Linked DNA regions of Homo sapiens. The protein of the gene in region 1 purifies or fractionates together with the protein of each later gene. This does not show direct contact. Each region holds a gene or a part of one and is shown on either strand. Other genes may lie near its edges. The genes, in order: CYP4V2 and GATC.

Region 1 (3,020 bases):
TGATGCGTATTTGATGGGTATTTAGCATCCCCTGCCTTGATCCACGTGTTCTTCTTTGAAGGGTATTTGATGGGTATTTAGCATCCAGTACCTTGATCCACGTGTTCTTCTTTGAAGGGTATTTGATGGGTATTTAGCATCCAGTACCTTGATCCAAGTGTTCTTCTTTGATGGGCATTTGATGGGTATTTAGCATCCCCTGCCTTGATCCACATGTTCTTCTTTGAAGGGTATTTGATGCGTATTTAGCATCTAGTACCTTGATCCACGTGTTCTTTGATGGGTATTTGATGGGTATTTAGCATCCAGTACCTTGATCCACATGTTCTTCTTTGAAGGGTATTTGATGGGTATTTAGCATCCCCTGCCTTGGTCCACGTGTTTTTCTTTGAAGGGTATTTGATGGGTATTTAGCATCCAGTACCTTGATCCACATGTTCTTCTTTGATGGGCATTTGATGGGTATTTAGCATCCCCTGCCTTGATCCACGTGTTCTTCTTTGTTGGGTATTTGATGGGTATTTAGCATGCCATGCCTTGATCCACCTGTTCTTTTTAGATGTCTGCACCCCCAGCCCCCACTGCTCTTTCAGGTCATCTTATCTACTTGCTTTCATCAGGGAAGTCTGACCGTCCCGCTACAGTAGAAGACCTGAAGAAACTTCGGTATCTGGAATGTGTTATTAAGGAGACCCTTCGCCTTTTTCCTTCTGTTCCTTTATTTGCCCGTAGTGTTAGTGAAGATTGTGAAGTGGGTAAGTATGCTATACCTAAAGTAGAAGGGAGAGGGAAACTTTCTAATGTCTACCTTGCTCCGGTCTCATAATGTATTGACTACTTCTTGACAGCAGGTTACAGAGTTCTAAAAGGCACTGAAGCCGTCATCATTCCCTATGCATTGCACAGAGATCCGAGATACTTCCCCAACCCCGAGGAGTTCCAGCCTGAGCGGTTCTTCCCCGAGAATGCACAAGGGCGCCATCCATATGCCTACGTGCCCTTCTCTGCTGGCCCCAGGAACTGTATAGGTTTGTATCCATCTGAATTGGTTTGACCTTTCAGGCCCACTTGATGGTGGGTTTCTCACAGTGATTTCTTTGAGATGTGATGTGACATTGCCCATATGCAACAGCCTTAAAAAAAAAATAGGTGGTTTCTTTTTTCCCTCACTGTGCTTTGTAGTTTTAAAATATTACGGTCAAAAGGTATATTAGTATATTCGCCTGCATGGGCTTCCATAGCAAAATACCACAGACTGGGTGGCTTAAACAGCAGAAATTTATTTTCTCACAGTTCTGGAGGCTGGAAGTTCAAGAACAAGGTGTTGGCAGGGCTGGTTTCTCCTGAGGCCTCTCTCCGTGGCTTGTAGATGCCATTTTCTCCTTATGTCTTCACTTGGTCTTTCCTCTGTGTGGGTCTGTGTCCTGATCTTCTCTCCAGTCAGACTACACTAGGGCCTACCCCAATGACCTCACTTATACTTACTGACCTCTTTCGATTACCTGTCTCCAAATACAGTCATATTCTAAGGTATGGGGGGGGCTTAGAATTTGGAGAGAGACACAATTACCCATAACATAAAACATAATTAGCTTCATGGTAGAGTTTCAAAATGTTGTAGAGTTTTAATTACAGTAGAATATAACTTATTGTGGTAAAAACTTTATTAATGATTACTTATGGTTAACCTAATTTTTGTGTTTATTGCTTTTAAGAATTTCATTTTGCAAATCAAAACAGCAAATGCTTGCCATATGGCCAGCTAGTACTTAAGCAAAATGAATGCACATCACCACCCTGCATTATAAACCCTTTTGGTTTTAGTATCTCTAGCATTTTGTCATTTATGTAAATGCAGACATCGGTAAAATGAGGCCAGAGTGAAACGGGTGAATCTGAAGCTTTTTTGGTGAATCCATAGTAAATGAAAGACCCACTAAGACATAATCTAGGGTAGTGAGTCTCAAGCTTGAAGGAGCTCAGGATTTATCTGGATCAGCTGGAGTACAAATTCTCTGATCCTCCCCAGCTATAGATGTGCAAGGTGGGATCAGGGAGGGAAACTCAAGACTCTTCATCTTTAACAGGTGTTCCAAGCCATTCTGGTTCTCCTTCCACCTACTGCGAAAATGTAAAGTGGCTCGCTTCCTATGACAGGACCTCTTGTTTCTCACATTTGGGGTAAATCTATAACTAAAGCGATGGTATCTACATTAATTTGAAGGTCAAAAGTTTGCTGTGATGGAAGAAAAGACCATTCTTTCGTGCATCCTGAGGCACTTTTGGATAGAATCCAACCAGAAAAGAGAAGAGCTTGGTCTAGAAGGACAGTTGATTCTTCGTCCAAGTAATGGCATCTGGATCAAGTTGAAGAGGAGAAATGCAGATGAACGCTAACTATATTATTGGGTTGTGCCTTTATCATGAGAAAGGTCTTTATTTTAAGAGATCCTTGTCATTTACAATTTACAGATCATGAGTTCAATATGCTTGAATCCCCTAGACCTAATTTTTCCTTGATCCCACTGATCTTGACATCAAGTCTAACAAAGAAAAAGTTTTGAGTTTTGTATTTTCTTTTTTCTTTTTTCTTTATTTTTTTTTTTTGAAACCGTGTCTCACTCTGTCGCCCAGGCTGGAGGAGTGCAGTGGTGTGATCTCAGCTCACTGCAACCTCCACCTCCCAGGTTCAAGCAATTCTTCTGCCTCAGCCTCCCAAGTAGCTGGGATTACAGGTGCCTGCCACCATGCCTGGCTAATTTTTTTGTATTTTTAGTAGAAACAGGGTGTCACCATGTTGGCCAGACTGGTCTCAAACTCCTGACCTCAAGTGATCCACCTGCCTCAGCCTCCCAAAGTGCTGGGATTATAGTCGTGAGCCACCACGCCTGGCCAGAGTTTTTTATTTTTATCACCACCATAGATGTTACAGTTGGCTGTGGTCACAAAAGTAGTTAATTGTGTCAGCACCCAAATAAACATCTAACAGGTTTCTCAACAGAGGAATCCACAGTCCAATT
Region 2 (3,822 bases), on another chromosome or scaffold:
AGAATCTGTTATTAAGAAATGCTTGAGCATCCATTTTTTCAGGGGACTGAAAAAAGCAGGAACATTAGTATTCACAGTAAAAAAATACTGTCATTATGCTTCCACATGTTCACAGAGTACCCCCTTTCCAGAATGAGCTACTCAGCTGTGTGGGAATGGCTCTTGTTCATCCAGCTTTGGCAAAGAGATATTACCTGTTTGAAAATAACAAAAGAGAATTTTTGTTTGTTTGTTTGTTTTTGTTTTGAGACAGAGTCTCGCTGTTGCCCAGGCTGGAGTGCAGTGGCGCAATCTCAGCTCACTGCAGGCTCCGCCCCCTGGGGTTCACGCCATTCTCCTGCCTCGGCCTCCAGAGTAGCTGGGACTACAGGCGCCCGCCACCTCTCCCGGCTAATTTTTTGTATTTTTAATAGAGACGGGGTTTCACCGTGTTAGCCAGGATGGTCTCGATCTCCTGACCTCGTGATCCGCCCTCCTCGGCCTCCCAAAGTGCTAGGATTACAGGCATGAGCCACCGCGCCCGGCCACAACAGAGAATGTTATAGCTGAGCCTGCCGCCCAGCTGGCTCTACTGAGCTAACTGATCACTACTTTCTCATGGAAAATATGGAAGTAATGTAGCTACTGTCCTGTTTTCCTAACTGGGAGTATCTGAAAGAATCAGTTCTAAGTGTAGCCAAATTCACCTTTTTCAGTAAGGAGTATACAGGTTGATTAGCCACTAATATGCAGATAGGACTAGAAGGAAACACTGACCATGAACTCAGGTGGTCCCAAAAAGCAAAGTCTGAAGTAAGGTTCTGTGTGGGAGATAGCATGTCTGATCAAAAGATATTTCTGCTGGAGCCACAACTATCAGGCTCTGAGATGGAGAGTCTCCTTTCTCTCCACAGTTAACAGGTGGTTTAGTGGATTGGAGGCATGATTAAGAGTTTAGCTCACGGCCGGGTGCGGTGGCTCACACCTGTAATCCCAGCACTCTGGGAGGCCGAAGCGGACGATCACGAGGTCAGGAGAGAGAGACCATCCTGGCTAACACGGTGAAACCCCGTCTCTACTAAAAATACAAAAAATTAGCCAGGCGTTGTGGTGGGCGCCTGTAGTCCTAGCTACTTGGGAGGCTAAGGCAGGAGAATGGCATGAACGTGGAAGGTGGAGCTTGCAGTGAGCCGAGATCGCGCCACTGCACTCCAGCTTGGGCAACAGAGCAAGACTCCGTCTCAAAACAAACAAAAAGTTTAGCTCACAAAATTTCTAGCTTTCTTTCCCATCCTTGCATCAACCAGAGCCTGCCTTTAACTGGCACCTTAAGCTGACCAGGGCCAATGTCTTCTGTGGAGTCTGCTCAGAATGATTCTCCCTCAGGATATCCTGAACTGGAAGTTGGCACTTAGCAGGCTACCTGATTGCTTTTGGCTAGTCCCACTCCCAGATGCCCAGAGGGGTAGTACAACAGCTCCAAGTATTCACCTACCTGCAGAGGAGATAAAAACAGTCAACCTATCCAAGGTTCTGGATTTTACTGTCAGCCCAGAGTAATTTTAAAGCTTCTATTTAAAATATTTACAGTAGGTAGATGATGCAAATCTCTATACCAGCTGTTGTAAACTGATGGCTCACAGACTGCACCTGGCTTGCAGATGTGTTTTATTTGGCTTGGATGGTATTTTGTTTTTTAAATTTTGAATTGGTTGCTAGCACTTAAAATTTAAGAAATATCGGCGGGGTGCAGTGGCTCACCCCTGTAATCCCAGCACTTTGGGAGGCTGAGGCGGGTAGATCACCAGTTCAAGACTAGCCTGGCCAAGATGGTGAAATCCTGCCTCTACTAAAAATACAAAAATATTAGCCAGGCATGGTGGCAGGCACCTGTAATCCCAGCTACTCGGCAGGCTGAGGCAGAGAATTGCTTGAACCCGGGAGGCAGAGGTTGCAGTGAGTCAAGATTGCACTCCAGCCTGGGTGACCGAGCGAGACTCCATCTCAAAAAAAAAAAAAAAAATTTAAGAAATATCACACAAAATGTCAGGTATCCAGGTTCTCTGGAGAAATGGGTTTACATTCCTGCCTGGCAACACTGATAGGGTAGCAGCCATGCTCCTCCTGCTTTGAATGGGCACAGACTGAGGGCAGACCCTAATGGCGTTTGAATCATGTCATAGGCAAAGATGTGACAGAAACATCTGGGCTAAGGCCACACATGATAACTAAGTTGTCACAATAAGATTCGTTTTGGGAGGCCGAGGTGGGTGGATCACCTGAGGTCGGGAGATCGAGACCATCCTGGCTAACACAGTGAAACCCTGTCTCTACTAAAAATACAAAAAATTAGCCAGGCGTGCTGGTGCATGCCTGTAATCCCAGCTACTGGGGAGCCTGAGCAGGAGAATCGCTTGAACCCGGGAGGTGGAGGTTGCGGTGAGCCGAGATTGCACCATTGCACTCCAGCCTGGGCAACAAGAGCGAAACTCCGTCTCAAAAAAAAAAAAAAAAAAAAAGGATTCTTTTAGGAAAGGACTGGTTTTTTTGTGGTACCCAGCCCAAAGCTAGACCTAACAAATATTTATTCATGGTATGAATACTAGAAAGTTGGAGTCGATTACAGGATCTGGCAGGGTCTTAACTGTGGCTTTGAGAAACACTGAATGCCAGCTGCCCCTTTAGGGAGATCTTGAGCTCCAGATTTCCACCTACTTTAAACCTCCCGCATGCCCCCAATCCTGTTTTGCTTGTTCCTGTTACTAACTGCCCCCTAGAGGTGAGTATGACCCTGGACCCTACTGCCACCTTAATGCCACCATCTGTATGCACTTCATCCTTTTCAAAGTGCCTTCACATAGCATCTTTGGTCCTCATGCTTCCTGCTTCATTCCTAAGGTTACTGTGAGACTATCTGTTAAACCATTCTGGGCAGCACGTACCTGGGGGGGCCACAAAGTACTCCTCCACGACGCGATGGGAGTTTTGTAGTAATTCATCAGCACAGTTGCCTTCTACCACATTGTCGGATCTCAGGTATAGACATCTACAAAACCCAGAAGCTCAAGGTTACCCTCTCAGAGAAGGGGGCTTTTAGGGGATGATGGAGAGGGGCAAGAAGGAGAGAACAAGGAAGCAGTATATTCTTGAGTTAATGGGCACTGTTCAAAGATAGAGAAGCTGGGATCAACAGTAGACCAAATAACAGCCTACAGTTTATAGATTGACCGAACAACCCTGAGAAGTAAGTGCTAATTACTTCTCTGGATTGATTTAACAAATAGTTTTTGATGATTATATGGGCAACTGTCTTTTGGTGGGGACAGGTAAAAGCAATTACAAAAACAATATTTTAAATCTAACAGAGGTTAGTACAGCCTGCCAAAGGATAGAAAGGGTACCTAGTCCAGCCTGCGTGAGTAGCACATCCTCAGAATAGCTGATGTCACTGTTCAAGGATGGGCAAGAAATAGCTGGATTGGGGGATGAAGGTATGAGAAATGGACTTCCTGGCACGTATAGCAGCATGAATCCCAAAGCAATAGAGCCGAGAGCTCAGAGATTCAGAGAAGGACAGGGAGTTTAGCAGGCTGGGGTGTGGTCTGCCGGGGTGGAAGATGAAGCTGGAAAGCTAAGCAGAGATGGGGAAGCAAACTTGCCACAAGAGTAACTTAAGGATGTTGGCTGCTAAGTAACAACTGGGATCTCAGCCCAATCTGATACACCTAAAATGAATGCTTTTTCCACCACAGCCACTTTGGTGGATGTGCCTGCCCTTGAGCAAGATGTGCCACCAACAGCTCAAGAATCTCCCAGTGTTCTGTGGGACCTAGTGACTTTACT

What was found.
Region 2: the proteins of CYP4V2 (region 1) and GATC purify together in Homo sapiens (affinity purification with mass spectrometry; 2 studies listed by BioGRID and IntAct, with this or other methods). This does not show direct contact.

What each region holds. Positions count from the first base shown.
Region 1 is NC_000004.12:186,208,245-186,211,264, forward strand, and holds part of CYP4V2 (cytochrome P450 4V2), read left to right. Parts: intron 1-620; coding exon 621-755; intron 756-848; coding exon 849-1,028; intron 1,029-2,224; coding exon 2,225-2,397; 3' UTR 2,398-3,020. UniProt on the Homo sapiens protein: A cytochrome P450 monooxygenase involved in fatty acid metabolism in the eye.
Region 2 is NC_000012.12:120,456,279-120,460,100, reverse strand, and holds part of GATC (glutamyl-tRNA(Gln) amidotransferase subunit C, mitochondrial), read right to left. Parts: intron 3,026-3,822; coding exon 2,922-3,025; intron 195-2,921; coding exon 142-194; 3' UTR 1-141. UniProt on the Homo sapiens protein: Allows the formation of correctly charged Gln-tRNA(Gln) through the transamidation of misacylated Glu-tRNA(Gln) in the mitochondria. The reaction takes place in the presence of glutamine and ATP through an activated gamma-phospho-Glu-tRNA(Gln).